7 linked regions of the Homo sapiens genome follow. The protein of the gene in region 1 purifies or fractionates together with the protein of each later gene. This does not show direct contact. Each region holds a gene or a part of one and is shown on either strand. Other genes may lie near its edges.

What was found.
Region 2: the proteins of ALDH7A1 (region 1) and ANXA11 fractionate together in Homo sapiens (co-fractionation; one large-scale study listed by BioGRID). This does not show direct contact.
Region 3: the proteins of ALDH7A1 (region 1) and CAPN2 fractionate together in Homo sapiens (co-fractionation; one large-scale study listed by BioGRID). This does not show direct contact.
Region 4: the proteins of ALDH7A1 (region 1) and CAT fractionate together in Homo sapiens (co-fractionation; one large-scale study listed by BioGRID). This does not show direct contact.
Region 5: the proteins of ALDH7A1 (region 1) and NIPSNAP3B fractionate together in Homo sapiens (co-fractionation; one large-scale study listed by BioGRID). This does not show direct contact.
Region 6: the proteins of ALDH7A1 (region 1) and SUCLG2 purify together in Homo sapiens (affinity purification with mass spectrometry; 2 studies listed by BioGRID, with this or other methods). This does not show direct contact.
Region 7: the proteins of ALDH7A1 (region 1) and THEM4 fractionate together in Homo sapiens (co-fractionation; one large-scale study listed by BioGRID). This does not show direct contact.

The regions. Positions count from the first base shown.
Region 1 is NC_000005.10:126,577,638-126,581,941, forward strand, and holds part of ALDH7A1 (alpha-aminoadipic semialdehyde dehydrogenase isoform 1 precursor), read right to left. Parts: intron 1-4,304.
Region 2 is NC_000010.11:80,198,435-80,202,738, reverse strand, and holds part of ANXA11 (annexin A11), read left to right. Parts: intron 1-1,345; exon of another isoform or gene 1,346-1,480; intron 1,481-4,304. UniProt on the Homo sapiens protein: Binds specifically to calcyclin in a calcium-dependent manner. Required for midbody formation and completion of the terminal phase of cytokinesis.
Region 3 is NC_000001.11:223,715,256-223,719,559, forward strand, and holds part of CAPN2 (calpain-2 catalytic subunit), read left to right. Parts: intron 1-2,506; coding exon 2,507-2,576; intron 2,577-4,304. UniProt on the Homo sapiens protein: Calcium-regulated non-lysosomal thiol-protease which catalyzes limited proteolysis of substrates involved in cytoskeletal remodeling and signal transduction. Proteolytically cleaves MYOC at 'Arg-226'.
Region 4 is NC_000011.10:34,445,116-34,449,419, forward strand, and holds part of CAT (catalase), read left to right. Parts: intron 1-4,076; coding exon 4,077-4,248; intron 4,249-4,304. UniProt on the Homo sapiens protein: Catalyzes the degradation of hydrogen peroxide (H(2)O(2)) generated by peroxisomal oxidases to water and oxygen, thereby protecting cells from the toxic effects of hydrogen peroxide.
Region 5 is NC_000009.12:104,770,113-104,774,416, forward strand, and holds part of NIPSNAP3B (protein NipSnap homolog 3B), read left to right. Parts: intron 1-736; coding exon 737-886; intron 887-1,121; coding exon of another isoform or gene 1,122-1,159; exon of another isoform or gene 1,160-1,204; intron 1,205-2,709; coding exon 2,710-2,796; intron 2,797-2,884; coding exon 2,885-2,961; 3' UTR 2,962-4,304.
Region 6 is NC_000003.12:67,500,649-67,504,952, reverse strand, and holds part of SUCLG2 (succinate--CoA ligase [GDP-forming] subunit beta, mitochondrial isoform 2 precursor), read left to right. Parts: intron 1-4,304. UniProt on the Homo sapiens protein: GTP-specific succinyl-CoA synthetase functions in the citric acid cycle (TCA), coupling the hydrolysis of succinyl-CoA to the synthesis of GTP and thus represents the only step of substrate-level phosphorylation in the TCA.
Region 7 is NC_000001.11:151,874,553-151,878,856, reverse strand, and holds part of THEM4 (acyl-coenzyme A thioesterase THEM4), read left to right. Parts: intron 1-1,731; coding exon 1,732-1,856; intron 1,857-3,928; coding exon 3,929-3,969; 3' UTR 3,970-4,304. UniProt on the Homo sapiens protein: Has acyl-CoA thioesterase activity towards medium and long-chain (C14 to C18) fatty acyl-CoA substrates, and probably plays a role in mitochondrial fatty acid metabolism. Plays a role in the apoptotic process, possibly via its regulation of AKT1 activity.

The sequences.
Region 1 (4,304 bases):
GCTCACTGCAACTGCACCTCCCGAGTTCAAGCAATCCTCGAGCCCCACCCTCCTGAGTAGCTGGGATTACAGGCACGCACCACCATGCCCAGCTAATTTTTTATTTTTAGTAGAGAAGGAGTTTCACCACGTTGCCCAGGCTGGTCTCAAACTCCTGACCTCAAGTGATCCATCCACCTTGGCCTCCCAAAGTGCTGGGATTACAGGAGTGAGCCACCACGCCTGGCCTCACATATTCTTTATGTTACCTGACGAATCCCTGGGCCAACTTCTCTGAATTCAAGACAAGGTGGCTCATTTATTGGTGGAAGATGGGAAGGGGGAGTTCTAATAATTATATATATGTTGAATAAATGAATTATGCAGGCCGGGCGTGGTGGCTCACTCCTGTAATCCCAGCACTTTGGGAGGCCAAGGCAGGTGGACTCCCGACTTGAGGTCGGGAGTTCAAGATCAGCCTGGCCAACATGGTGAAACCCTGTCTCTACTGAAAAAACAAAAATTAGCCGGGCGTGGTGGCGGGTGCCTGTAATCCCAGCTACTCAGGAGACTGAGGCAGGAGAATCACTTGACCCCGGGAGGCAGAGGTTGCAGTGAGCCGAGATCCTGCCATTACACTCCAGCCTGGGCAACAGAGGGAGACTCCGCCTCAAAAAATAAATAAATAAATAAAATGAATTACGCAAATCTTTACATTCACTATAAGAAACTAAAAATACAAATCAGCTAGGAGCAGTGGCTCATGCCTACAATGTCCAGCACTTTGGGATGCTGGGACGGGAGAATCACTTGAGCTCAGTTTGAGACTTGGATCAACATGGCAAGACCCCTGACTCTACAAAAAAAATTAAAAATTAGTTAGGTGTGATTGGTTATATGCCTGTAGTCCCAGCTACTTGGGAGGCTGAGGAGAACTGCTTGAGCCCAGGGTATTGAGGCTGAAGTGACCTGGGATTGCACCACTGCACTCCAGCCTGGACAACAGAGTAAGACCCTGTATCAAAAAAAAAAAAAAAAAGAAAGAAAAGAAAAGAAAAAACAAACAAAAATATTGTATTTTAAATACAAACTTACAAACTTTAAAGTCACCCATAATCCTACAAGGTGTTTATTTTAATTAAAGGCAGCTGGACAGTATAGAACCATACCACACGAATACGATGGTTCACAAATCCCAGTTAAAACCACAGACCAACTGGAAAGGTGGCTGTCCCAGCCATCAGTCTTTCTAGCCACACTCACACTGCTAGCTAGGATGAGGGACCATACCAGACACAGCACCTCACTCCTGGGCCCTCCTTAATCTGGGCACCTTAATCCCTAGAGATGAAGTGCTGGCACAGCCTCTTCCTGGCAGGGCCTGCCTCTTCCTGGCAGGGCCTGCCTCCTCCTCTCCAGCCCTCCCATCTCTGCCCTGATGTCACCCCCTTGCTTATAACCCTGTGGATTTTGGATACCTACTGTAGCTATTCTCAGAATAAAGTCCAATCTCCTTGTCAGACAAAATCTCTTCCCGAGGTTCTCTTTCCACTCTATCTGCCCTACCACTGCACCCTCCAGCTGTGCTGAAGCAATGCAATCCTCCCAAATAAGCCAGACCCTCTCAGCCTTCACACAGGCTTCTTCCTTCTTTAAAACAACTTCCAGCACTCCACTCCTTCTCCTCTTTGTCCCATTTGGGACCTTACCTTGGCTAACCTTCTCTTGGAGGCCTTCCTGGACTGCACTCATGAGGCTGGGTTAGGGGATCCCAGCTATGTGCCCACCATCCTACCGTTTACTCCCTCATATTACTTACCATGCTGGATTATGCTGGATATAATTACCTGTTTATTTATCTCCCACTCTAAGGTATAATTTATAAGCTTATAAATCCCTTGAGGACAGGGACTATGCCTTATAGCTCGAGTATCACCTAGTAGACTACCCGGCACCTGATAGATGCTCCATAAGCATTTATTGAATTAATAAAGCCAAAGTTACCCCAAAGTCTCTACATAAATGAGTAAACTGCTTTAAAAAAAAAAATAGAAGTGTAAGCTAGGTGTGGTGGCTCATGCCTACAATCCCAACACTTTGAGTGGCCAAGGCAGGAGGATTATTTGAGCCAAGGAGTTCTAGACCAGCCTAGGCCACATAGTGCAACCTCGTCTCTACAAGAAAAATTTTTAAATTAGCTGGGCTTGGTGGCATGTGCCTGTAATCCCAGCTACTCAGGAGGCTGAGGTGGAAAGATTGCTTGAGTCCAGGAGGTCCAAGCTGCAAGGGGCTATAATCACACCACTGCACTCCAGCCTGGGTGACAGATCCTATCTCAAATAAACAAACGAAAATGTGCAAGCAATTGAGAAAAATTTTAATTGTTAATTGTGAGGCAGGCATCATAGTAGGTATAAATCAAATAGTTACCTGCTTGCACATGTACATATCCCCAAATTGGAGGTTTATTGACTGTATTGTTGTTATTGCTGTTGTTGTTGAGACAGAGTTTTCTTCTGTTGCCCAGGTTGGAGAACAATGGCGTGATCTCGGCTCACTGCAACCTCCGCTTCCCAGGTTCAAGTGATTCTCCTGCCTCAGCCTCCCGAGTAGCTGGGATTACAGGAATGTGCCACCATGCCCAGCTAATCCGTATTTTTATTAGAGATGGGGTTTTTCCATGTTGGTCAGGCTGGTCTTAAACTCCCGACCTTAAGTGATCCGCCCACCTCTGCCTCCCAAAGTGCTGGGATTACAGGCGTGAGCCACCACGGTGGGCCTATTAACTTTTCTTAGCTAGAAAAAAACTCTTGAAAGTGTTCAATGACATAAAATTAATATTGGATAATGGGAATCATTGCTAGATATCTAATTAAGGACATTAAGTGTCCTTAATTAGACTTAAAAAGACTCCCCCAACTCTTTCTACAAGTAGGGAATTTACTCAATATTCCAAGAAAAAGAGAAAAATATGATTTTTTAAAAAATATTATTTCCTTATTATAAATGTAACCTAATAACCATCATGGAAATTTAGAAAATGCAGAAAAATAGAAGAAAATCCACTACTAGTAATTCTGCCACAGAGATAACCACTGCTACCACTTTAGCATACACTTCTATCCCACCATTGCCAATGCAGACATACAGTCACCTGTTTTGCTCTATCCACATTGCAAACATCACAAATTGCTTACACTCTTAACCTCATTTTTTTTTTTTTTTGAGATGGAGTTTCGCTCTTGTTGTCCAGGCTGCAGTGCAATGGCACGATCTCGGCTCACCGCCACCTCCGCCTCCCGGGTTCAAGCGATTCTCCTGCCTCAGCCTCCCGAGTAGCTGGGATTACAGGCATGCGCCACCATGCCTCACTAATTTTGTATTTTTAGTGGAAATGGGGTTTCTCCATGTTGGCCAGGATGGTCTCTAACTCCCGACCTCAGGTGATCTGCCCACCTTGGCCTCCTGAAGTGCTGGGATTACAGGTGTGAGCCATCTTGTCCAGCTTTTTTTTTTTTCTTACTCTTGCTGTCATCTTAGTATCTTCATTGTTAAAACCTCAGAGTATAAGATTGGTTCTTACAGAACAGCTTGTAATAGCAAAACACTGAAAACAGCCCTACATATACATCATTTGGAAGCTGACTAAATAAATTATAGTCTCTTTATAACAAAATAGATAGCTGCAAACACAGATGAAGGAAGCCCCTTAATAGAATAATACGAAAACAATTTCCAGCCTGACACAGTGGCTCACGCCTGCAATCCTAACACTTTGGGAGGTTGAGACAGGCAGATCACCTGAGCCCCGGAGTTCGAGACCAGCTGGGCAACACTGCAAAACCCCACCTCTACAAAAAAAAAAAAATAGCCAGGTATGGTGGCATGCACCTACAGTCCTAGCTGAGGTAGGAGGATCACCTGATCCCGGGGATGTTGAGGCTGCAGTGAACTGTGATCATGCCACTACATTCTGGCCTGGGCAAGACAGTAAAATCCTGTCTCAAAAAAAGAAAACAAAAAAACAATTTCCAAGATATATTATTGAATATAAAAGTATAAAACAGAACGTACAGTTTGCGGCCGGGCACAGTGGCTCACGCCTGTAATCCCAGCACTCTGGGAGGCCAAGGTGGGTGGATCATGAGGTGAGGAGTTCAAGAGCAGCCTGGCCAGGATGGTGAAACCCCATCTCTACCAAAAATACAAAAATTAGCCGGGTGTGATGGTGCACACCTGTAATCCCAGCTACTCAGGAGTCTGAGGCAGAAGAATCGCTTGAACCCGGGAGGTGGAGGTTGCAGTGAGCCAAGATCGCGCCACTG
Region 2 (4,304 bases), on another chromosome or scaffold:
TCCCCCGTAAGCCTGAAGCAGTTCCTGGCACTTGTTCCCATGGGGAAGCGTCTGTGTAAGGGTATGCTTCACCAGCACTGCCAAGGAAGTAGACTTTTCACTTTCTCTGGATTTTTCTCTGCAACACCCTCTGATCCCATTGCCCCCAGAATAGTAGGAATTTTGAGTGATACCTAGATAGGAAAGCTCTTAGGATTAATGAAGAAACTGAGATTTTCTTGGTGGGAGTTTGTGCTTTTAAAGGGAGTTGTTGCAATTCAATGGAACTCTGTAATAACCACTGAAACTGTTACACATTAGGCTTACTGACCCTATCTCCTATAACCCATGAAATAAAGACCTGATAGTCACATAGTTGTTTGCTATTTGGGAGGATCCTAAAAGTACAGCCTGAACAGTGACCCAAACCACAGCTGGCCTTGCCCATGCTGATGTGAGGAAGGAATGGGTGGGGGCAACTAAGAAATTGGGGGACAGAGTTCTCTGTGCTAGGTATCCTAGGACAAGCCACCCAGCCACACAGAGACCCCCCGCTTCCCCCCCACAGAACAGTTCTGGATGATAAAATGCCTGCCTGGAATGGAGAATCAGATGAGAAGATGTTTGCAAAGGGGTTTGAGATCAGTTAGCGGGTGGTGATGACAATGTTGATACCGTGGGTGTGTGACTGCCAGGAGCTGTGAAGCAGAGGGTGGAGTGTGCGGTGGTCAAAGCCTGGTTCTGGGATCTCTAGCTTTCCAGGGGCTTAGGCTCCGCCTTAGCAGAAAAGAAGGAAAGGAAATTGAGAAGGAAGTCAGGTGTCCCCTGCCCCTCACACTTGGGGATGGCTGACTTGGAGGACATGAGATGGGGGAAATCTGAGTGAGGGCAGAGAAGAGAAATGTGGAGGCTGCTCACAGGGAGGCTAGGGAGCATATGGCATATCCAGCCTGGGGAGTGGCACCACTGGGGGAAAGGGTGCGTGTGACAGTGGGGAAGGAGTGGTGATAACAGATGTGAGCTTGCTGTGTCCACTAAAAAGGTCACGGCTATTTTTAGGAAGTAGGTGACAAGGCATGTTCCTGTAGAACTGCTTATTACTGAGAACCCACTGTTGGCCTCGCCCTGCGTGGTGTGCTTAAAAGGAGAGACCGCCCCCACTCACCCTAGAGTCATCCACCTGGTGTCCCTGAGACATGGGACACTGGATGAGGACCAGGTTTGGAGGATGAAGAAGATCATGTATTTGGTTTTGGACATGTTGTGTTTGAGGTGTCTTTGAGATACCAAATAAGCTGGTGGGTCTGGGGCTCAGGAGGCGTCTTGGCTAGACAGACATTTGTCTAGGTTGTGTTTGTATTTGAAGTCATGGGCACAGCGAGATTGAAGAACTCACCTCGAACAGCTGAGTAAAGGAAGATGAGCCTATAAAGGACCCAGAAAAAGAGCGACCTGAGAGGGGCCCAGAAAGCCAGGACAGAGTTGTATCCCAGGGGCCAGGGTGAGTCTGCTTCGTGGGATGGAGTGGTCAGCTTGGCATCGCGGCTGTGGTGAGTGATATGGAGGAGATGTGGCTGCCTTCACTGCTTTGGTGGGATGATGTGAGCAGAAGCGAGGTTGGAGTGAATGGGTGAGGAGTAGCAGGACGTGAGGATCTGATGATAGACAGGCTCTGAAATGTTGGCTTTGAAGGCGAAGAGGACGTCGTTGAGGGAGTGTTTGATTCTGTTGCCTCGATTTACCCTCCTGCTCCCTTTCCAATCCCAGAAGGGAACATGTGGATGGCCTGCCACTGACATCCCTCCCCACGGCGCTCCGTGCTCAGGCAGACCTAGGTACCTGCAAGGGTTTGCTTCTTTCACAAAGTGGATTCATTCTCATGAATGAATGAATGAGTGAATGAAGCATGTTGCCCAGGTTGGTCTCAAAGCCCTGGCCTCAAGCAATCCCCCCGCCCCGCCTCAGCCTCCCAAAGTGCTGGGATTACAGGAGTGAACCACTGCACCTGGCTGGTATTAAATTTTCTTTGTGGCCAACTGCATGATAAATATTAACATGTTTCATGGGCGTGAAAGGAGAAAATAGGTCCTCTGCGGGACGCTGACTTTAGATAGATCTCTTAACTTCAGTTACCCTTATATCCCTGCTTGCCTGGCTGTCAGATTCTGAGAGGTATAACAAAAACTCTCACTGTAGTTTTTTAAAGTCCAGCTCTACTTATATTTGTGGGAGTTCTAGCCTTTTGAGTTTGGCTTTCGTGTTTCATGTATATAGGCTTATCAAGCTGATCTTCCTACCTGTCATTTGCTGGTTATTTAATGCCTTTGGTCTTTGGTCTTAAATTCCATATTGTCTGTGTTTTAGGAGAATACATGGCCAAGGATCTGGGAGAATCTCTTTTCTTTACAGTCTTAAAATTAATAAATAAGTGCATTTTATAAGATAATAAGTGAAAGGCTCAGAAATTTAAATGCAGGCATCAGAGGACATTCAAGCCATGCCCCTTTAGCTTCTGTTCAGGCTCACATGGAGCGGTTAGTAATCAGGTCTCACTGATGACCATGAGCTCCCTGTCCTTGGCTGTCCTAATGGTTCCCATGATAGCCAGATTTTTAGGAGGGGTGGATAAAATGAGATTTGCGTGCAAACTCCTGGGACGTTGCCTGGGAACCTCTTCTCTCACTTTGCAATTCCTGCCCCTTCCTGTAGGTCCAAGAAGCGGACTGCTCTGCCTCTCATTTACGCATTTCCTTCCTCATTCCAGACAGCAAGATGAGTTTTTGACAGAGTAGCCAGTACAAACACTTCTCAGGGCCAGAAGTCAGAAAGACGCGGGCCCCAAGTCATAAGCTCATCTCTGTGCTTGTGTTTTAAGCCACATAAACTGTCTCAGCGGGCTGGACTAGGCTATGCCTTGTTGTACCCTGAGATCCTAGTGAGTAGTTCTCCAAGTACTGTGTTTACAGATAAAGGCAAATGCCAGAGAGAAATGGCTGGAAAAACCCCTTGGCTTGCTAAGGCAGGATTATCGAAAAGTCTTCAACATATATGTTTTTAAATTTTACATATTTTTTCATTTTTATTTATTTTGAGACCAGACTAATTTTTGTATTTTTGGTAGAGATGGGGTTTTGCCATGTTGCCCAGGCTGGTCTCAAACTCCTGGGCTCAAGTAATCTGCCCACCTCAGCTTCCCAAAGTGCTGGGATTACGGACATGAGCCACTGCACCCAGCCAACCACTGTGCCCAGCCTATTTTTACTATTAATATTTCCACCTCTGTTTTTCTTTGCATTTATTTGGTATGTCTTTGCCCAACCCTTAGTTTTAAATATTTCTTTCTCACTTAAAAAAGTTTATCTTGGCTGGGCGCGGTAGCTCACGCCTGTAATCCCAGCACTTTAGGAGGCCGAGGCGGGCAGATCACGAGGTCAGGAGATAGAGACCATCCTGGCTAACACGGTGAAATCCCGCCTCTACTAAAAATATAAAAAATTATCCAGGCGTGGTAGCGGGCGCCTATAGTCCCAGCTACTCGGGAGGCTGAGGCAGGAGAATGGCATGAACCCGGGAGGCGGAGCTTGCAGTGGAGCCGAGATCGTGCCACTGCACTCCAGCCTGGACGACAGATCAAGACTTGGTCTCAAAAAAAAAAAAAAAAAAAGTTTATCTTGAAGATGGAATCTTCGTAAATAAAATTTGTTTCTCTTATAATCAGAACGTGGTTGAGGGTGGATGGAGGTTGACAGAAGGCAATGATAACAGCAACAAACCTAATTGCATGGTTTCTGTCTTTGGTAGAGGAATTCTGACTGTTGACATACCAGATATACTTGATTTTATTCTTTGCATCTTGCTTATTACTTATTATACTTGCATGCATTCCTTTCCTGATTTTTGCTGTTGGGTTAAGTTTCTCATCGTCATCTTCCCCACGCCACCTGTATTACGTTTCAGGTTTGGTTGTGAATGAAGAGAGGAGCCCCGTCTCTCTCTCTCTCTCTCTCTCACTCACTCTCTCACTCTTTCTTGAAAAATCAGGGTCGAGGTTAAGTGTGTGTTCCATGAGATTGTCTTGGCACCAGGCTCCTTATGGACTGTTGTCCCTAGCATTCTCAAGGGCTGTGGTTTTCAAACTTGAGCATGTATAAGAACAATCTGGAAGGCTTGTTAAAGCATAGATTCTTGGACTGCACCCTGAATCATTCTAATTTAGGAGGTCTGTGATGGGACCTGAGCACGTTAATTGCTTACAGGCTCCCATATTGTATAATGCCGCCGGGCCACATGTTGGGTAGCACCGTCTAGGTGCCTCCCTTAACTGC
Region 3 (4,304 bases), on another chromosome or scaffold:
ACTCCAGAGTAAAGGAACTGGAAATTAAGAACATGATCAACTTATTTAAGAAGGACCCCCGGGAAGAGAGGAGAACTGATAGGTAGAGTAGGACCTGGACTTTGAGAGCCTGTGTTTTTTTCATATGAGAACAACTTGAATGTGTCATATGTTGAATCACCAGGAAGAAGGGATTAAAGATAAAGGCAGGGAGGGGGCAGTGAAACAGGATCCCTGAGGAAGTGAGAATACGGGTTGTGGGCAGGGGAGGGGAGCAGGTTAGCCTTGCAGCAGGAGGAGCTGCTCTTCCTCGGAGAGAGGATTTCACAACACTGGCAAGAGTGGCTCCAGTGCCTGGAGCGGGGATTAAAGCAGTAAGTCCAGTGGGGTCCAAGGGCCATGCAGGGGTACAGTGAGGAGAAAGCAGGTGTGATCCGGGTGGCACATCAGATCCTTCCAGCAACCAGTCTGTTAGGAGCAAGGGCAGATGTTGTGAGCCCCTATGTTTCCCCCAAGAAAATCAAACCTCTGAGAGGTTTCTCACTTGCTTATCTTCAGCTGGCCGAACTCAGCCTCAAACCCATATGTCCTGTCTCCAAGTTCAGTGACTGTTATCATCAACTTCTTCAACAGTAATAATAATAGATCACATTTATGGAGTGCTTGCCAGGGCATGTTTACATCATTATCTCATTTAACACTCAGAACAATCCTCTGTGGTGGGTGTTTTCATCGTTCCCATTTTGCAGGTGAAAAAACTGAGACTTCAAAAGGTTAAGTGACTTCCCAGGGTCCTACGACCTACATAATAAGTGGCAGAGCCAGGATTCAAACCTAGGTTATCAGAATAATGCAGCAAAGCCCAAACCCTCAGCCCCTTTTCACTGACTGGTAAGACCCATATTTAATTCGATGCCCTACATGCCGTGCACAAGTTTCAGTTTTCTGAAGCATCGCTTAGATGCTTAGGTGTTTAGCACCACTCTGAACTCTGACTTTTCTAGAGAGGCTGCTAAAGGCATTAGAAAGTTTCTGAAGTATAATGGAAAAACCCTGCTGGAGTAAGTGCCTGGCACACTCAGGATTATCAGTGTGATTCTTTATAATAAACAGGCTCCCAGCACCAAGCCCAATCTATTCCATCAGCTGGATAAGAGCTCTCTGGCAGGCCTTGGGCCAAGCTGGCTTCCTTTGCCTCAGCAGAAGAGCATTCTGATTCTCTCTGCCATCCCCAAAACTGACAGGAGCAGAGAGAAACAAGGCAGAGGCATGAAGGGAATGTCCTCTGCGGCAGATGGTGCTTCCGGAAGAGCTCCCACAATCTGAGCTAGAATGAACAGGGGCTAGATCCAAGTCTCATATAGGCATACTTCTGCTTGACAGAGTGGGCATGCCGAGGGCCGTTGGGTGGAGGCAGGCGTGTGCAACCCAAGCAGACATGAGACGCAGCTCCTTCAAGGCAAGGTTGCCTGAGCCCAGAGAGGCTCAAATTTGTGCCCCAACTTCCTCTGTGGCTTTTGGGTGGGGCTCTTCAGAATCGAAACACACTCAGAGGGCTGCTGAAAGGGCTAAGAAGTGTTCAAGGTTGGCTTCCATCAGGCTGCTCATGACAATGGCCCCTGAGGTTTTAACACCCTTGAACGCTTGGTACTAAATCAATTAGAGGCAGGGCAGGAGCAGAAAGAGTTGGCGCATTTGATCAGTAAGTTCCAATGCCAGTGCTGTCTATTATCTGTGAACTGTGTTAACTTTGGACACGTCACTTCACCTTTTTGAGCTGTTTCCTCGTCTGTAAAAGGGGGATAATACCCATTCCATGAGGTAAAGCTTTGAGCACAGTCTCTGATGTAAGCAGGTACAGAATATATAGATGCTGTAAGTTTCATGGTCCCATGGAAGAATTCAAAAGGGTTAGATCCCGCCTGCCCTCAAAAGGGTATGTGTTAGGAAATCAGAGTAATACCTAAGTAGTAAATTGCAGAGTCCAGAGACTCTGGGACTCAGACTTGAAGGGATGAGTGAGGATTGGACTAGGACGACTTCACGGAGGAGGTGACAATGAGCCTCAAGGTATGATGCAATATGGAAAAGGAGGGAAGAGAGTGGGAAAGGAAGGAATTTCATGCAAGCAAAACAACTTGCATGCAGTAACAGAGGAGAGAGGATGCTAACCCAGTGGATAGGGTGGCTCTAGAGTGTGGATGGTCTCCACGTCTGGCAGAAAAGGCTGGACTTGCTGCTGTGGCCCCCGGGACACAGCACAATGAAGGAGGCTCCAGGCAGTCCAGAGTGTGCAGGGTCCAATGCCTGCCCTTCTCAGACAGGACCACCCATCCACCCATCAGGGCCCAGGGAGCAGGGGTCAGAAGGACCTCATGACACAGAGTTCTGACTGTGATGACACACTTTCCCCAGAGGGGAGGGGAAGGGGAGAAGGGGTTAGAAGACCCCACTGAGAATGGAGGCATCCTAGCTGCAGAAGCACCTGGCTGGTAGGCTAACAGCACTTTGTGGGTCTCGTTCCCAGGAGATCTGCGCTGACCCCCAGTTTATCATTGGAGGAGCCACCCGCACAGACATCTGCCAAGGAGCCCTGGGTAAGTGATAGATTCAGAGCAAGCTGGGGGATCTTGTCTGTAAGGCTGTGGGTGGAAGAGATGAGGGACAACCTGTGGCTTCTCTCCCTTCCCAAGCAGCTTGGCAATTTCTATTTGCAGAGAAGCTCCATGGAATTTCTTGGCCCTAGCGGGCAATGATTCTACCCTCAGCCCCATGCTGGGGCACACAAATGAGGCCTCCTGTGTCCCCTGCACAGGGCTAGTTGCTGAGGTTACAGAGATGCTGCCACTAGGAGGACCAGGGGGCTTCTGGATGTCAGCCACCCCTTGGTATGCACCTCCTGGAGCCAGCATTACCAGTGGTTCACGAAATACACTCTGGGCAGAGGACTAGGTGGGAGGACTCCCCCAGACCAATGACAGCACTGAGACATCAGTTCTGTGAGGTTCAGGAACCAGGGAAGGTGACTCAGTGTAAAGAAAGAGGAAACTCTAATGCTCGCTGCTGAAGGAAGTTATAGTACCAGGGCATTCTCAGTGTTTGCAAGACAAGCTCACCATGGTATCACAGTTGTAACGCTCATTTAAGTAAAATGAACTGGAGTAGCTGAATTGTCCAAAACCTTGCTTTCTGGAGCCGAGTTCAGATTTGTTTCTGGAGATAGTCCTTGTTGAAGGTTTCAACCCACAGGGTTCTCCACCTTTAGTATGAAAATTCCCAAAGCTTCTAGGAAGTCCCAGCAATGGGGCCTGGCGCTGTTATCTAAGATTCTCATAGAATCTGCCCTCAATGTTCTTTTACTCATAATAAATGTGGGCCTATAATTACTAGAGCAGATTATTTGCTCTGATAAACCAAAAATCTATTTTCTGCCATCAGCCTCAGCTGGCTGGCTCCCCAGACAAGTTCATCAGTAGCAAAATCAGTCAACTAGAGTTGTACCTCCTGTCCTCACCCACCTAGCAGAGGTTCTGTTACTCATATACTCCTAATACCAGCTGATAACAGCTAATATGTATCTCTAAGGCACCGTGATTATTCCCATTTTATAGATGAGGATGCAGAGGTCTTCCTACAGCTAAAGTGGTGGCTGGTACCCCTGACCCCAGGGTATGTTTAATTCCTGAGCTAGACTCCCTAAGACGGGACCTGGAAAATTTTCTAGCCCTGAGGAATGTCAGAGCATCATGTGAATCATTAGGACAGACAGACTGTGAGGAAGAACATGAGCTGGGCGGGAAAGTTTGTCTGAGCTCAGGCTCTGCAGATTCCTGAGATGCCAGAGCACATTCTTACCTGCAGAAAACACTCCTTTCATTTCTTTTCTTCTCGCCCCACAAAAGACAGAAGATAGAGGTCCTTGAGCACCCAAGGCGGATCCTCCAGGAAAATCTATTCATTAGAGAAAATGGAATTGATGGAAACTTTGACCAACCCCGGGGGCTTTAGAGAATCCAGAAACAGCCGGCGCAGTGGCTCACATCTGTAATCCCAGCACTTTGGGAGGCCGAGGCAGGCAGATCACCTGAGGTCAGGAGTTAGAGACCAGCCTGGCCAACATGGTCAAACCCTGTCTCTACTAAAAATACAAAAAAATTAGCTGGACGTGGTGGTGGGTGCCTGTAATCCCAGCTACTCAGAAGGCTGAGGCAGGAGAATTGCTTGAACCCAGGAGGCAGAGGTTGCAGTGAGTAGAGATGGCACCACTGCACTTCAGCCGGGGTGACAGAGAGAGACCCCATCTCAAAAAAAAAGAGAGAGAATCC
Region 4 (4,304 bases), on another chromosome or scaffold:
TTTTATGTTTGTTAGTATATTGAGCAGTGTATTAGGGATCAGGTATATAGATGTAAAAGGAGTACACAGTCTAGAGAGGAAAAATAGTGACAGGCTGGGCGCGGTGGCTCACGCCTATAATCCCAGCACTTTGGGAGGCCAAGATGGGCGGATTTCTTGAGGTCAGGAGTTTGAGATCATCAGCCTGGCCAACATGATGGAACCCTGTCTTTACTAAAAATACAAAAATTAGCTGGGTGTGGTGGTGGTCGCCTGTAATCCCAACTACTTGGGAGGCTGAGACGGGAGAATTGCTTGAACCCGGGAGGAGGTGGAGGTTACAGTGAGCTGAGACCATGCCACTGCACTCCAGCCTGGGCAATAGAGCGAGACTCCATCTCAAAAAAAAAAAAAAAAAAAAAAAAAAAGAAAAACAGTGACATAAACAGGCAATTACAATATTTTGTTATATGGGGCACAAGAAGATGCCCTTGGCCCTGCTTCATGAGTGGTGTGGGGCAGGGTAGAGAGAGCAGTTCAGGAGAGGTACGTATGGATGTCATGGGAGCTAGCAGCCAGGAAGATGTAAACATGTTAACAAGGACCTCTCCAGAGAGAGGTCTTAAAATTATCCAGCCATAGAGAAGCTTTTCTCTCTTTAAAAATATTCTGGCTCTAAAGTTATTCATTGAGTTAAAAACAATAATTGCAAGTTGGAGGAAATCTCTTTGCCTGTCCTTACGTGTTACATGTAACAAGTAAACCTGTGCCACAACACTGACATCTCTGCAAAGTTACTTAAGTTTTCTGAGTTTGTAGTATCGCCCATTAAATGGGATTAATAATATTGATCTCTGGATTATTGACAGGCTTAAGTGAGATAACTTGCGTGGTCCGTTTTCTAGCCCCACCCTCTCATTTCATCTAGTAAATCTTCATTGCATTAATTATTTTCATCTTAAATACACCGCATCCTGCTCCTCACCTTCTAATATTAATACTCTATCTTTCAGTTTAGATCAGTTCCTCTTATCCAATGTTGCGCTAAACATCCCCTGAAGTTGGGGGATCTTTTCCTTTCTAGTTTTTGCTCCCTGGCTTCCCTTTTCTGTTGCTGACTGTTGAAGCTTTCCTGCCCCACTGGCTTTGAAGGTAAATTGTATATACATGAGCTTGTGGGGAAAGCTGTTATATAAATGAGGACAATTGATCTAACTGTTAGAGTGGGGAAATGGAAGAGATTCTGAAGCCTCCATTTGTAACTTAAAAACTCAGGTTTCATTTCTTAACAGGATTGATGTTAAGGAGGGGATTCCTTCATTGGGCAGGAGGGAGGACTGCCATAATTCCAGCATTCCCACTCTTAATAGTCAGTGTCATCAGGAAAGACCACCTCAAGCTTTAGTACTTTATTCATTTATCCAACTCTGCACCTGCTGCCTTTGGGTGTGGTATTTATTCTTGACCATATCACCCTGACCCGGTAACCAGAAGGGAACATGTGATGTGCTCTCATCTCTGCCTTAGGGGCAGCTCCCTCCCCACGTTAAGAATGCTGGCATGTAAATAACACTCTCATCTGTTTAGCGTTCCTTTTACTGAGCTTCTTGGTATCTTTTCTCATACTTGTACCTTTTATGGGATGTCCCCCCCTTTTTTTTTTTGAGACGGAGTTTCGCTGCTGTTGCCCAGGCTGGAGTGCAATGGCACGATCTCAGCTCACCGCAACCTCCGCCTGCTGGGTTCAAGCGATTCTCCTGCCTCAGCCTCCCGAGTAGCTGGGACTACAGTCACCCCTCCACTGCACCTGGTACTAATTTTGTATTTTTAGTAGAGACAGGGTTTCTCCATGTTGGTCAGGCTGGTCTCGAACTCCTGATCTCAGGTGATCCACCTGCTGCAGCCTCCCGAAGTGTTGGGATTACAGGTGTGAGCCACCGCGCCCAGCCTGGATGTCCCTTTATTTTTTAAAGGCTTCCTTAAATACCTTGTTTGTAAGTTGAAAAGAGCATTTAAAGAGTGAACAGATTTGGTTTGCTCTGGCTCTCTAATTATTTTAACTTTGTTATCACCCAATAGTTCTAGGTTAGTGGTTTTCAATCCTAGCTTGAACAGGAGTCATTTAAAAATAGCCCAGGCCTCACCCAGGGCACTTCTATCAGACATCTCTAGGGGGGATGGCCCAGGCATCAGGAGGCTTTAAAAAGCTCCTCAGGTGATTTTAGTGCATTGCCAAGGTTGAAAACCAAGGCTTTAGGTTTAAACTAAAGGTGAAATTGCTCTTTTTCTGGTTCATTTTCTACTTTAGAAAGTAGAAATTTTTTTTCTGGTTCATTTTCTACTTTAAATTAAAAATAAACCTACAGAGGGTAACACGTATTAGCACGTCACAGAGGGTCACACGTATTAGCAACATATGTATCTTCAAAAGAGTGATGTGACTGGGTGGTAAGTGTTGATTGGACCCTTAAACTGTGACAGTTTAGAAGGGGCTTTGCTAGATGGGTTTAGGGACAGAGATGGTAGAGTGAGAGAGTGTGGATGGAGGAGTATGCATCTGTCATGATTACTAGAAAAATAAAACTTCAAATGCTTTGCTCCTTCTGCTGCGAGGTCATGTTCTCACAGCCAGTGAAGTGACAGCATATATGTGTTGAATGTGTGGCTTGCATTTTACATTTAACTCTTTTAATTCATGTGTTAACCTTAGGAGGTACTTATTATTCTATTTTGCAGATGAAAATGGAGACTCATAAATAAGTAACTTACCAGCAGCTACATAGCTGGTAATTGGTAGAACTGGAAGTTGGACCCAGGCTCTAGTGCTGGCACTCATAGTTTCTCCCTGCTGCCATGTTGGCCTCTTCCTACTTGGATGAAGATATAACTCTAGTGGCAAGGGCATTTACTAGTGTGTGAGAGGGTCTTGTTTATTAGTTTTGCAAATTGCACGGTCTCCTTTATTCAATATCTTTTTTCAAACAGCTCACAGATCTTTTGTGGTTTTGTAAGTGCCTACTCCCCACCGTATTGCCTTCTAGAGAAGAGGCAGGAATTTATTTTAATGTACAGGACAGACATGCATGGGGAGTAAAACTACAGACTCCACTCTAGGTGTGTGGAAATACTAAAAATAGTGCTTTTCTCTGTGTGTGAAGTTGGTCTGTTGAGTTTTGTCATAGACAGCGTTGAGTTCCTCTCCCAGGTGGAGGTGGCGTAGCTTTGCGTCACTTACGTGTCTCTCCTGATTTCCAGTGACCCGGGGAAGACACTGCAGAGGCAGTTGTCTGTGGTCAAAAGTATTCTCTGACCATGGAACTAGATGAAGCTATGAGCTTCCAGGATCATGTGGGGCTAGAAGAATGCCGCTCTAACCCTAGAGGAGGGACAGCTGAGTGTCTTCTGATGTAACTGAAATTGGAGAATCAGGTGGATTAAAATTAATTATTTATTACAGTAAAATAACCTATCCCATTTCAGAGACATTTGCTATCTTTAAAACATTAATACTATAATCCACCTTACCAGTAACAGTTTACTTTTAGTGACAGTGAAAGCCATTGACTTTTTTTTTTTAATTGAAAAGAGATGTTGCAAATAGCTGGTGTACATTTCTTGAGATGCACTAAACAAGGTAGCGCACTTGAAGATCGTGGCAGTAATAAAGCGTTTGTAAGTTCTGAGTAAAGTATTGACCAGCACAGCTTCCCTGGAGACCGTCTTCTCATTGCTGGATTGGACATTTCACTGTTAAGCTTGTAGGACGCTTTTGGGCACCTCTCTGACTGGGAGCTTTGCAGAACCCAGTGGCTTTCTCTGGAGCAGGTGCTGAGCACATTTTCAGGCTCCAAAATCATCTTTCTGCTCTTCAGAGCAAGTTTCTTAGCAGATTAGTGTTGAGATTTGTCAAGGGTTTCTGGGGCATCACTAAAAGTTTCAGGCAATGGCCCATCCTGTCAGATTTTAGTACTTTGGACACAGGAAATTAAAAAAGAGGGCAGATGGTATAAACATTGCAAAGCTATGTACCCGTGACAGTGTAAATGAAAGGTTTGATTGTGCTAACTCTCCTGCACTTTCTTTCTGTGTTCCTGTAGAAAGCTGATGTCCTGACCACTGGAGCTGGTAACCCAGTAGGAGACAAACTTAATGTTATTACAGTAGGGCCCCGTGGGCCCCTTCTTGTTCAGGATGTGGTTTTCACTGATGAAATGGCTCATTTTGACCGAGAGAGAATTCCTGAGAGAGTTGTGCATGCTAAAGGAGCAGGTAAGTGCTGTGTTTATTTGCTGTAAAAAGATTGTTTCACAGCACCTGGGTCAAGT
Region 5 (4,304 bases), on another chromosome or scaffold:
ACTTCTCAGTGTCAAGTCTTATTAATAGTTCCCTTCCTCTATGTTGTTCATAATTCTTTAGTAACTTTGTATTTCTTTCCTTTTTCTTGTCCAATCTACCTTGTCCTCTAGTTTCTTTCTCTCCACCCATCTTATACTTCTGGCCAGAAGGTAGAATGGTTTTTAAGCATTTACCTGGATATTTAGGAAGAATAAAACCATCTCCTTGAGGGTTTTCTTTTTTTCCTTAAAGGCTCAGACATGACTTTGGGTCAACTAGAAATAGAATCCTACCGGAGAAAATTATACAAAGGAAAAAGTTATTTCCTCTCAAAATTGAAAAGGAGAAGGAAATGTAGGATATCAGAAAGTACTTCTCTTATGCATTTCTTTTTTAAAAAGTGTAGACAGGCAGCTTGAAAATTCTGCTTCATTATACATTCTCAGTATCTGTTTTCCTGACAAATTTTATAGATTAAAAATATTTCAGAGTGTAGTTTATATATAGCTTCCAGTCCTTTTTCTTTATTTTCTTTATGATTAATTTTAACAACTGACCCTTAAACATGGACAAAGACTTTCTAAACATAAAAGCAAAGAAAAATAATGCAGAGAATCAATAAATGTGACTGCATATGTATGTATACATGGATTATCCTCTAACTTCATTGGTTAGCCTTCTAATGAAATCAGGAAAACCTGGTTAGAAATTGTTTGAATGTCTTCTGTGAAATAATTATTTTTCTCCCTATTCTAGGAGTCTATGAACTAGCTGTTTTTCAGATGAAACCTGGTGGGCCAGCTCTGTGGGGTGATGCATTTGAAAGAGCAATTAATGCCCATGTCAATTTAGGCTACACAAAAGTAGTTGGTGTTTTCCACACAGAATATGGAGAACTCAACAGAGGTACAGTTGTCCATTTGTTCTATGAAGTTGCCATGTGTATTAGATCAGTTCGTCTCTCTTTTTCATTTTGGTACCTGTTTTAATTTTTATCTCCAAATTTTTAGAGTTTGTTGTTTATAGGATTGAAAAAATCTATAAGCATCTTATTTTACATCTTATTTTTTTAGAATGTTAATACTTTATGGAGCCTTTTTCAAATGCTGAACTGGTGTTTGTTTTTTAACTTTTATTTTAGGTTCACGGGGTACATGTGAAGATTTGTTACTTAGGTAAACCCATGTCATGGGGGTTTGTTGTACAGATTATTTAATCACTCAGGTATTAAGCCCAGTACCCAATTGTTATCTTTTCTAATCCTCTCCCTCCTCCCATCTTCCATTCTCAAGTAGACCCCAGTGTCTGTTGTTTCCTTCTTTGTGTTCATAAATTCTCATCATTTAGCTCCCGTTTATAAGTGAGAACATGTGGTATCTGGTTTTCTTTTCCTCTGTTGGTTTGCTGAGGATAATAGCCTCTAGCTACATCCATGTTCCCACAAAAGTTATAATCTGGTTCTTTTTTATGGCTGCATGGTATTCCATGGTGTGTATGTACCACATTTTCTTTATCCAATCTGTTGTTGGTGGGCATATAGGTTTTCATGAAAAGATTCCAAGTTTTTGCTATTGTGAATAGTGCTGCAGTGAACATTCACGTGCACATGTCTTTATGGTAAAATGATTTATATTTCTCTGGGTATATATCCAGTAATGGGATTGTTGGGTCGAATGGCAGTTCTGCTTTTAGCTCTTTGAGGAATCACCATACTGCTTTCCATAATGGTTGAACTAATTTACACTCCCACCAACAGGGTGTAAGTGTTCCCTTTTTTTCACAACCTCACCAGCATCTGTTATTTTTTGACTTTTTAGTAACAGGCATTCTGACTGGTGTGAGATGGTATCTAATTGTGGTTTATATTTGCATTCTCTAATGATCAGTGATATTGAGCATTTTCTCATAAGTTTGTTGGTCTCATATATGTCTTCTTTAGAAAAGTGACTATTCATGCCCTTTACCTACTTTTTAATGGGATTCTTTTTTTCTCTTATAAACTTGTTTAAGTTCCTTATAGAGGCTGGATATTAGGCCTTTGTCAGATGCGTAGTTTGCAAAAATTTTCTCCCATTCTGGAGGTTGTCTGTTTACTCTGTTGACAGTTTTTTTTTTGTTTTTTTTTTTGCTGTGCAGAAGCTCTTAAGTGTAATTAGATACCATTTGTCAATTTTTGTTTTTATCATGATTGTTTTTGGTGTCTTTGTCATTCAAAATTAATATCATTGACATAGAAAATTCTCACATTGTTGCAGCATTTTAAAAAATCTGTTACTAAGTATAATATACACTAAGACCCTAATTTGGTTTACTAATTTTTTTTAAAGGAAACACACCATATGTTGATAAAGGTTTATCTAGGCAGTTAAGATTATACTAACTTTTATTTTTTCTTTGTATCACCTAAATTTTCTACAGTAAACAATTTTTTATAATCTGCTTTTTTTAAAAAATAAAACATAGTAGGAAGTCATTAAACTCGGGTCTAGTCTTAATTGTGCCTTAAGCTGTGTTTCTTTGCATTCTCTCTTCAGCCTTATGTTTCCAGTTTAACTTATAAATTTATCTTCCAAATTTCTGATCCCTCTGAAATCTTATAACTAACATATTTAGTTTTACCTTTTGATTTTGATTTAAAGAATAAGACAACATTTCTGATTCACTTTTTCAATATTTCTTATTTGCTATTGCCATATATTTCAGAAACTACTTGTGGTTTATTTCTGCAGTTCATGTTCTTTGGTGGAATGAGAGTGCAGATAGTCGTGCAGCTGGGAGACATAAGTCCCATGAGGATCCCAGAGTTGTGGCGGCTGGTAAGCTGTTTCACTAAGCACGAATTATTTTTAGAACAAATGTGATTCAACCAATAACTGTATGCCTTCTTATGAAATGTTTTTCCAGTTCGGGAAAGTGTCAACTACCTAGTTTCTCAGCAGAATATGCTTCTGATTCCTGCATCATTTTCACCATTGAAATAGTTTTCTACTGAAATACAAAACATTTCATTAACTGCTCTAAGATGTGTCTGCTAATGGTGCTTAAATTCTCCCAAGAGGTTCTCGCTTTTATTTGAAGGAGGTGGTAAGTTAATTAGTTAATTTGCTGTGCTTCTTGCATTTTTGAAAGTTACATATTCTCCACTGCTTTAAGAAATAATTCAGTTCACTTTCACCTTGGCATTTCAGTATCTGTTACACATTAGAAGTAGTTGTCACTATTTCATCATCTTGGTTTTTCATTTGTTTTAGAATACCTCTTCTGTATTTTGATAACTCATTGCTTTATAGCATTTTCTTTTACTCAAATAAGGATTTTACATTTCCTTGCCTGACAGTATTTTTGAATTATTTATATAAAATATCTATCTTTTCATCATGTCTATAGTTCCTGAGATTTTAAAAAAATTTGCTTAGTAAAGGTTATTTTGTGATATAAAATGGGATTTATAAAAATATTAGATTGTTTATTTCTTTACTGTGGAAAAGTACAATGTCATCTGTATTAATTATTGCTTTTACATTCATTGATTATTAGTCATTCTAACTTGGAAAATAATGCAATTGGGTCACAGTGTTAAAAATCTAGAAAAGACTTGTTGGTTTATATGCTGAAATTGTTCATTTATAATTAATTTTACTAATTTCTACTTAGTTTGGATCACTAACAGAGATCTTGGGACATTTATTTGTTTTAAAGAAATATTTATGGTTATGGAAACGCTTGCCCTAATAAAAATCCTGCATATTCATTGTTTTTTTAAATTCACATTTTATACTTATATGATCTCTAAAGCTCTTGCTATGTTGCTATAAGACAGTAATATAGTGATAATTTACCAACTTTATTGAAAATGTTGTTACATCAATAAAATAGCATGCTGGGAACCTGAGAAGGAAGGTTTCTTTAGTACTGCCACAGATGTCCTGGAGTTTTCCTTGAAACATCTTTCATTTCCATTTTACTTGATGCCTCTACCTACTAAAACTAGATTTGGTACTTCCGATAGTGTATATTTACAGCTATATTATATTTACATTTTTACAGACTATCTTCTGATAATCTGTATTTACAGCTATGTTATTTTATATTTTTAAAATCTTACAGCTATAAAATAGTAAATTGTGAATTAGCTGTCCAAGGGCAATTTGGAAAACAAACTGTACAGTTTCCTCTCATTTATCAGGCTCTAAGCGATCTGCAGTTTATCTGGGCTATTATGCAATGTGAGATATTATTTATGAGAGGCAGGCAGTGGCAGCTTAAACAGACATACCTCCTCAGCATTCTTTTCCATGCAGAGTTCAAAGAGGCCTAAGACATC
Region 6 (4,304 bases), on another chromosome or scaffold:
GTTATTTTCCTTGTTTGTCCAAATGCAGTGCCAATTCATTCATTAATTCTGCAGCCAAGCAAGAAGCAATGTTTTATCATTATTTATTTATTTATCTACCTGCGCATTCATGTATTCATTCATTCATTTTGCTAGCCACTGTGAAATTTCATGTCATATTTCTTCTCACCTTCAGCCAGCTCTATCTGTACACAGACTCCTTTTTCTGATGTCTTTAAAGCAAGTTGTACTCCATGGGAAGGGTGGGCATTTTGTCCCCCAGGGAACATTTTTAGTCATCACAACTTGGAGGCTATGCTACTGGCGTGGATAATGCTAAACTACAACGCACAGGATGGTCCCTGTTCACAGAGAACGACCTCACCCAATCTGTCCATAGTCTAGAGATTAAGAATTCTTGCTTTGGGGCATCTTCATCAGTTGGAAGCTGAAATCCATTCACTGGGCCAAAGGAATGAGATCCAATTTGAAGCAGTGACTATCTGGCTAAGATTCCGTGAGAATTAAAGCTGGGTGATCCACAGTTAACTGGCACATCAAATTCCTTTCTTTCTTCGGATTGATTTCCCTAAATAACCACCCCGTTGCTTCTTGTTAGCAAGTGCCCATGTTGTTGGTGGGTGTTTCTCTGTTTCTGTCTTTATACACAAGACTCTATTTTCAAGAACATTTTCGGTTCTCTACCTCCCCCAACCCCCCTACCCACCCCATACCTATTTTCTCTTTTCACAGCCACTAAAAAAAAGTTCTAAAAAGTATACAACTCTCAGAACATCAATATTTAATGGGAAGTGGGACTAATTTGAAAGTATCAGCATTTTAAGGCCATTTTGGCAAGGCGTGTTTCAATAGTACATTATGGTTATTTATCACAAATCAAACGCAGTACGTTGCTTGAAGACAGATTATTTTTCAAACTAATTATGATAGTCTTATTTCCTGCTGTTTTATGTTCCTTTTATGTGTAAGTTTCCCCTCTGAAATGTATTCTTCTTTTGTTTAATTCTGTGACACATTCTTCTGTTAAAATTCTAGGGTCAGAGGCCTCTAACTGCCAGTCATGTTTTCTATCGAGATTGTTGAATTAGCAGCTCACAGAATCTCACGCCACTAAACAAAACAACAAAACACCCTATGCATATAAGTACCACAGCTTTCTTTGATATTCGTTCAGAAGGAAAATACATTTGTATAATCTATCAAGCATGTAACAATGTGCTTTTGATGGTGAAAATTGTTTTATAAATATTAATAGGTATGTTTCTTTCACCCACTTTGTATAAAAAATGGCCTTTGTTCAAGATGAATTTTCTTTAGAATTGAGTTTCATTAATGTGACGTTGACAATCTTAAGGTCCGGACCAAGCTCAGCACCTCTGAAAATGCATTTTGTATTGTTTGTTGTTTTATTAAATGAGAAAGCTAAGGGTTTAAGCAGGCAAGTTTATTTTATCGCCCTGCTGTTGACATAGACATCAATCCATTTTTAACACGTCAATTCAAGAAGTGCATTTAGAAGCGTCTTACAGGAGGAAATAAGCATGTAAGAGTCAGTTAGTATTCCAGGATTAATCTACTCCTTTTGCGTAGCCACAGGTTTTTATTTATTTTCTTTGTTATTTTACTTTTTTTTTGGTTTTCATGTTAATGGAATGCACTTTTTCTAAGTTTCTCCTTCACTATAAAATATGACACCTGTGTATCTATCACTTGGTTCACACAAGTGGATACAAGTGTGAGAACTGTGACTTAGCAGGGATTGGCAAACTTTTTCTGTCAAGGACCAGTTAGTAAATATTTGGGGGTTTGCGGGCCATACAGTCTGTATTGCAACTACTCACCTCTGCTTTTGTCTTGGGAAGGCAGCCATAGGCAATATGAACGAGGCTATGTTCCAATCTGTTATTCATAAAAATAGGGCTGGCTTGAGGGTCTTAGTTGCTACCCTTTGCTTAGATCTTCATTTGGAGCTATTCTGTACCAATCTTTAGCCTTGGCCTTATGCACAGGTGTGATGTGATTTGAGAGTCACCAACAGCCTATTTTACCCTTATCTTTTAGCCAAAAATCTTGTTTTCTACTATTTATGATGCCTAAAATGCCAACTATTAATATTCTTCCTTTGGGAAAATTCTTATTCATTCAGAAGATGGCTTTTTATTGAAAACCATGGGTAACCTGTACATATGTAAACTATGGGAGACATTTGCTTAGATTTGCTCTAAACAGAAATCTCAGATTATAAAGGAACAGATAATTTTTATTGTTAGGAAGAGAGGAGAGTTCTGTAGCCTGGGCTACAATAATGGGAAGCTCTTAAGTATAAAAAAGCATGTGCATATTAGAGGGTGGTGTGGTCGTCTAACAACCTGCTAGTACCCACTGTCTAGGAAGCTAAGCGCTTTGCATACAATCTCTCCTGCCACCAACACCTAGAGTAGAACATACTCTGATCCCCATTGTATAGACAAGGCTCGGGTTTAAGAGAGGTTAATGTGCTTAAGGATAGCTGGCTAGGAAGTGCCAGGAGTTGTCATTTATACCCTGATATTTTTGATGCCAGTCTATATTAAGTGGTCAGGTTCAAGGAAAATCATTTAGATGGCACAACATTGTAGATAGTAAGATAGGAAAGCACTTTGTTTGTTTGGTACTATGTATAATAGGGAAAAACAAACATTTTTCTCCTACCAAACTCTCAACACAGAAGAACACTTCTTGGACCAGATGTGTGAGTTTTTCCAACACTGACTAATCTCTGACACTAGCTAGGTATCCTATGATTCAATTCAATTCTTTTACCATCTACCTGGAATTAGAGTCAGATCCCATAGGTTAAGGGGTCAGTCTTATCAGACTGACTCCACTTTGGATGTCATTTGTAAGACCAAGCCTCTGGTACTTCTGATGAACCAGCTGTAAATTGGGGGTTCTTAGGACTCCCTCCTTGTGCCCCATCATTTACTAGAATGGCTCTCAGAACCCAGGGAAGCACTTTACTTACTACTGCTGATTTATTATAAAGGTTATTTTATTTTTTATCTTATTTTTTTATAAAGGATATTTTAAATGATACAAAGGAATAGCCAGATGAAGAGGTATATGGGGCAGGGTATGCATGAAGGGGTGACAAGCTTCCCTGTACTCCACAGGTGAGCCACCCTGTAGCACCTCCCTGTGTTTGGCAACCTGTAAGCTCTCCAGTCCCCTGGAGTTGAGAAATTTTTATGGAGGCTTTATTACATAGGGATGATCTGTTATTCTTTCTGGAGCATGGAGGTGGGGCTGAAATTTCCAAGCTTCTAATCATAGTTTGGTCTTTCTGGCGACCAGCCCCATACAGAAGCCTCCACCAAGACTTACCTTAATAGAACAAAAGACTCTCCTATCTCCCAGAAAATCCCAAGGGATTAGGAGCTCTGCATCAGGAATCAGGGTCAAAGGCCAAATGTTAGAACACAAGATTCTCCTAGCACCCCTATTGCTTAGGAAATCACAAGGGTTTTAGAGCTCTATGCTAGGAATTAGGGATGAAGACCAAAATAATATATTTATTATAAATCACAGTATCACAGACTACTTTTAAAATATAAAACAGGCGTAACAAATATGTGTCTGAAAGAATCCCTTTACATCCTTAAAGTTTTTCTTCCCTTACCCACTAAGTAAAGACTGGGGTCTTGAAGGTGGCAGTTCAATTTGAATCCCCTTTCTTAAGTCCTAAGTCCTCTAAATAAATTACTTCATATTTAGGTAGTGTTTTTAACTTCCCAAAACACTTAGACATACATGCAATGATCCAATTAGGTTGTTTAGTTTTCTCTACAAATTAACAGTCGGCACAGGACCGTTGTAGATATACACCCCTTTTATCCCATAGTCACCATCTTGAAGCTCTGGGTTAACTGCAAAGTTCTGTCAAGATTGTTCCCTGGAGAGAACGTCATACCACAGAAAAACATCCTCTGAAAATCTAGCTTTGCAGGCATTTAGTTGGGATTGCCTTTTGAACTTTGAATACATACCCATTAATTATTCTCTCTCTGAAGCAGCTTGTAACTGTAGTCTTTGTAAGGAGCAAAGGTCAGCTTGAAACTATTTTGATTTACTTGTTTATTGATCTCAACCAAGAATTCCTTTATTTGAAACTCTTCCCTTAGGAAGTCAATTTGATAACCTTAGCCCATTCATTTTGAAGGTGTCAGTTATAAGTAGTCTTGCCAATGAGTAATGGAGGAGCTAAAATTACTAATAAATTAATTAGAATGCATTTATAAACCTAGTGGAAAGCCATGTACGAAGTT
Region 7 (4,304 bases), on another chromosome or scaffold:
TATTTTTAAATGCTGCTTTTATCTTTGTTATCACTTTTCTGCCTCTAATACAAATCTAATTAAGTGTTCTAGCTAAACGAAGGAAAACAAGCTAAAGCCAGTTTCCTGTGCCAACCAAACTGATCTGTGCCTAAATATTAGTTACATTTAGAAAATTACACTGTATAGTTGTTGCATTATTTTGTATTTTCTGAAACATTTTCTGTTAGTCTCTTTACTAATCTAGGACTTTCTGTTACAAGGGCAACTCTTAACTCTCACTAGCTTAAGCAAAAAAGGGAATATATTGGCTTGTATGGTTGAGAAGTCAGGTGTGGCTGAGTGCAGATATTCAGTGATGTCATTAGGAATCTCAGCCACATTTTCTTCTAGATCTGCTTCATCCTTACGTAGCCTTTCCCAGTGTAGTGGCACAATGGCCACCAGCCAGGCCAGCCAGGCTTATGTCTTGTAAGCCTAGCGCCTCAGAGAAAAAGAACCCAGCCCCAAGGGCTACAGCACAAGTTCCAGGATTGACTATTTCAGCCTGTGCCCACCCCCACAACTGGTCACTATGTGTGTGTGGAGTGGAGGGATCATTATTCAATGCCAGTCAACCTACATGGGCTAAGAATGAGGGAGAGGTGGTTCCCTGACAAAAGGGGTACATGAGTATATCAAAGAGAGAGATATGAAGAGAATGAAGGGAGGGTAGGGGATGGATAAATGAAGAGAGTCATGTTAGTAGAAAAGGGAGTTGCTGGGCAGGCGAGAACACCTAATGTCCCCTGGGTCTTAGTAAATGTTGAATTGACTCAACAAAAGAGCAAAGGAAAAGCTAATGGGAGTGGAAGTATTAAAAGTTCATTGAAAGGAAAACTGGGCAGAGAGATCATCACAGTGATAACTTCCTTTCTACCTGGGGTAGTTCCATCATCTGCTTGGTAGTACCATAGGAGCACGAAACACGTTTCCGTGCTCTACCTTCTGTTTCAACCAACTGAAATTTCACTTTTAAAGAGATATCCTTTCATTGTGATATGTTTCTCCAGGATTCCCAGAAACGTCTGTAGCCACTAGTCACATGTAGCTATTTAAAGTTAAGTATAAATTAATTCAAATTAAATAAATTTAAGGACTCAACTTCTCAGTTATGCTAGCCACATTTCAAGTGCTCATTAGGCACATGTGGCTACCAGGTTGGACAGCTCAGATATGGAACATTTGTATCATCACAGAAAGTTCTATTGGACAGTACTGACTTAGAGCAGTAAGCTGTTATCAGCAATTTGTTGTTATTAGGTGTCTTTCTAGTGACCATTACTCAGAATTGAATGAGAAATGTTGATTATGACAGAAGAAATGAGAGAAGCTGCCTGGGACCATCTGTTGGCCCTATTTTCACTTCTTTAAAGCATTTCAGCTCCCTTAGGACTTTGCAGTGGATCTCCAGATGGGATAGTCTCTGCCATCACAGAGCTGGAATTCCTGATGATCCCTTTGAAACAAGCCCAGAGAGACATCCAGGGACTGTAGCCCAGGAGCCACCTGAGAGCAGTGGTGCTTGGGAGAGGGGGAGCTTGAGAGGCTGTTGGTGTCAGAGTCCTTGAGGAATGTATTGTCTAAGGCAGTCAGTGCTCATTGTTGTCAGGTGTCATAAATTTCTATCCCTTGTCATGTACTTGATCATCTTTTAATGTTATATAAGTCAGATAAAAACTGATTTTTTTCCTTTTTCATTTTATTCTGCAGACCTATCCCTCTTTGTTCTGTTGTTATGATAAATAGCCAACTTGATAAAGTTGAAGGAAGGAAATTTTTTGTTTCCTGTAATGTTCAGAGTGTTGATGAGAAGACCCTATACTCAGAGGCGACAAGTAAGAAGCTGGTCTTATCTCTTTCTTGGGGTTTAGTTGGGTTGGGTTGGGAGTTTTGGTTGGTTGGTTGGTTGGTTGATTTGGGTTTTGTGGGGGTCAGGGGGGTGTTTTGGTTTGGTTTGGTTTTTTGCCCTGGTATTATAACCCATACATGCCAAAAAATTCTTAATTCCCTGTCATACAAAGAACAAGTTAAAGATATTCTTATACATTGCTAGTAAAGGGCAAGTTGCCAACAGCTATCAAAATTACAGCCCAATGCATAAGCTCATGCCTGTAGTCCCCGCACTTTGGTAGGCTAAGGTGGGAGGATCACTTGAGCCCAGGAGTTCGAGACCAGCCTTGGCAACATGGCAAGACCCCATCTCTACAAAAAATACAAAAAATTAGCGGGGCATGGTAGTGTGCGCCTGTAGTCCCAGCTACTTGGGAGGCTGAGATGGGAGGCTCCCTTGAACCCAGGAGACAGAGGTTGCAGTGAGCTGAGATCGCACCTCTGCACTCCAGCCTGGGTGACAGAGCCAGACCCTGTCTCAAAAAAAAAAAAAAAATTTACAAAGTGATATGCCCTTTGACCCACCTCCAGGACTTTATCTCACAGGTATAATAACTGCAAAATTATAATGTGTTAGATTGCTATCGGGTTCCAGTGATTGTGTCACTCATGCAACATTATTTGCAATAGCAAGAAAAATGGCAAAACGTAGCAAACATAGCTATCCATCAATAGGAGACTGGTTAAAGAACTACAGCTCACCTATGAACTATATTGTATGTGTGTGCCATTAAAAAATGGTGAAATATTGTGATACCATAAATAAGAAAAATATGTCTATATTTATGTGTGTGTAGACTGTCTCAGGAAAGTCACACACATGACCTGTTACTTCCCTGGAGTACTGAGGTTCATCCATGTTGTTGGCTGTGTTCACTTGTTTGTACCACTGTGTAATACTCCATATGTGACTGTCCCACAATGAATGTCTCTCTTCCAGTGACAGGCCTCTGACTATTACAAATGGGGCTGCTATAAACATTCTTGTTCATGTCTCCTGGTGGTGTGCATGGGCAAGAGCTTGGCATATACTTAGGAACAGAATTTCTGGGTGGTAGAGTATTGTGAGTATTCAGCTTTACAGAGGAATGCAAAATTGTTTTCTAAGCCTGTACCAAATTAAACTCCCACCAGCAATATATGAGATTCTTTAGATTCCCATCTTCTCTAGCAATTAGTGAAGTCAGACTTCATGATTTTTGCCAGTCAAATGACTATAAAATGACTTCTCGGTGTGATCTTGATTTGCATTTCTCTGATTACCTGTGTGGTTGAGTGTCTCTTCATATGTTTATTGACCATATTTTTTCCCATTCTGTGAAATTTTTGTTTGTTCAGCTTTTTTTCCATTTGTTCTCATTTTCTTACTGATTTATAGATGTTCTTTATATATTTTCTATTAGAACAATTTTTTGTTGGATATATAAGTTGCACATACCTCCTTACAGTGTGTAAGTTGTCTTTTATTTGCTTTAAGGTATCTTCTTTATGAACAGAAATTTTTAATGTCAATTTAGTTGCATTTATTACATTTTTCCCTTTATGGCTAATTTTTTTGTATCTTGTTTAAGAAATTTATTTTTCCTCTTAAGTATGAAGCATTTGCAGGAATGATGGATTTAAGGAGCAGGTGGAAGATAATAACTTAAATCCACAGTCAATTTAAGAACTCCATTCCAGGCTGTGGTTTGTACTTCCTGTCTCACTAAACCTTTCAATATCATAAAGGTGCCAGATGGCTCACTTGTAATTTTAGTTCTTTTCATTTCTAATGGAAGTAGTGAGGAACCATGAAATGGCCAAGTGGTGAGGACCTGGTTACCCAGGGAGAAGTAATACAGTATTGTGATAGTCAAAAGCTGATTCTTAATTTGGCTGAAAAATGAGAGTGGACAGATAGACTGAAGCTACAAATGTGAATCAAATCCTTCTTTTGTATATGTCTTTCTATTTAGAGTAGTCCATCAAATTGAAGTCAGTTGACATATAATCATCTGCTGTTATTTTGTTTGTTTAGGCTTATTTATAAAGCTGAATCCTGCTAAAAGTCTGACATAAAGAGCTGCTGGTGAACTCCATCTCATTCTCGCCCCTCCAGAAGAAGCAGTTGTCCCCCAAATACTCTGCTCCCTCACTGCTGAATCCCTGTAGGGAGAAGCCTGCCAACAGTGACCTTCCGAAACAGCCTTCTGAATACAAAGAGGATTCAGTTTCCATCTTCTCAACTTTTTAACACAGAAATACTTCCTGCGAGCATATCGACAACTCTCGGGCCAGGCGCTGTGGCTCACACCTATAATCCCAGCACTTTAGGAGGCCGAGGCAGGCGGATTGCCTGAGCTCAGGAGTTCAAGATCAGTCTGGGCAACACGATGAAACTCCGTCTCTACTAA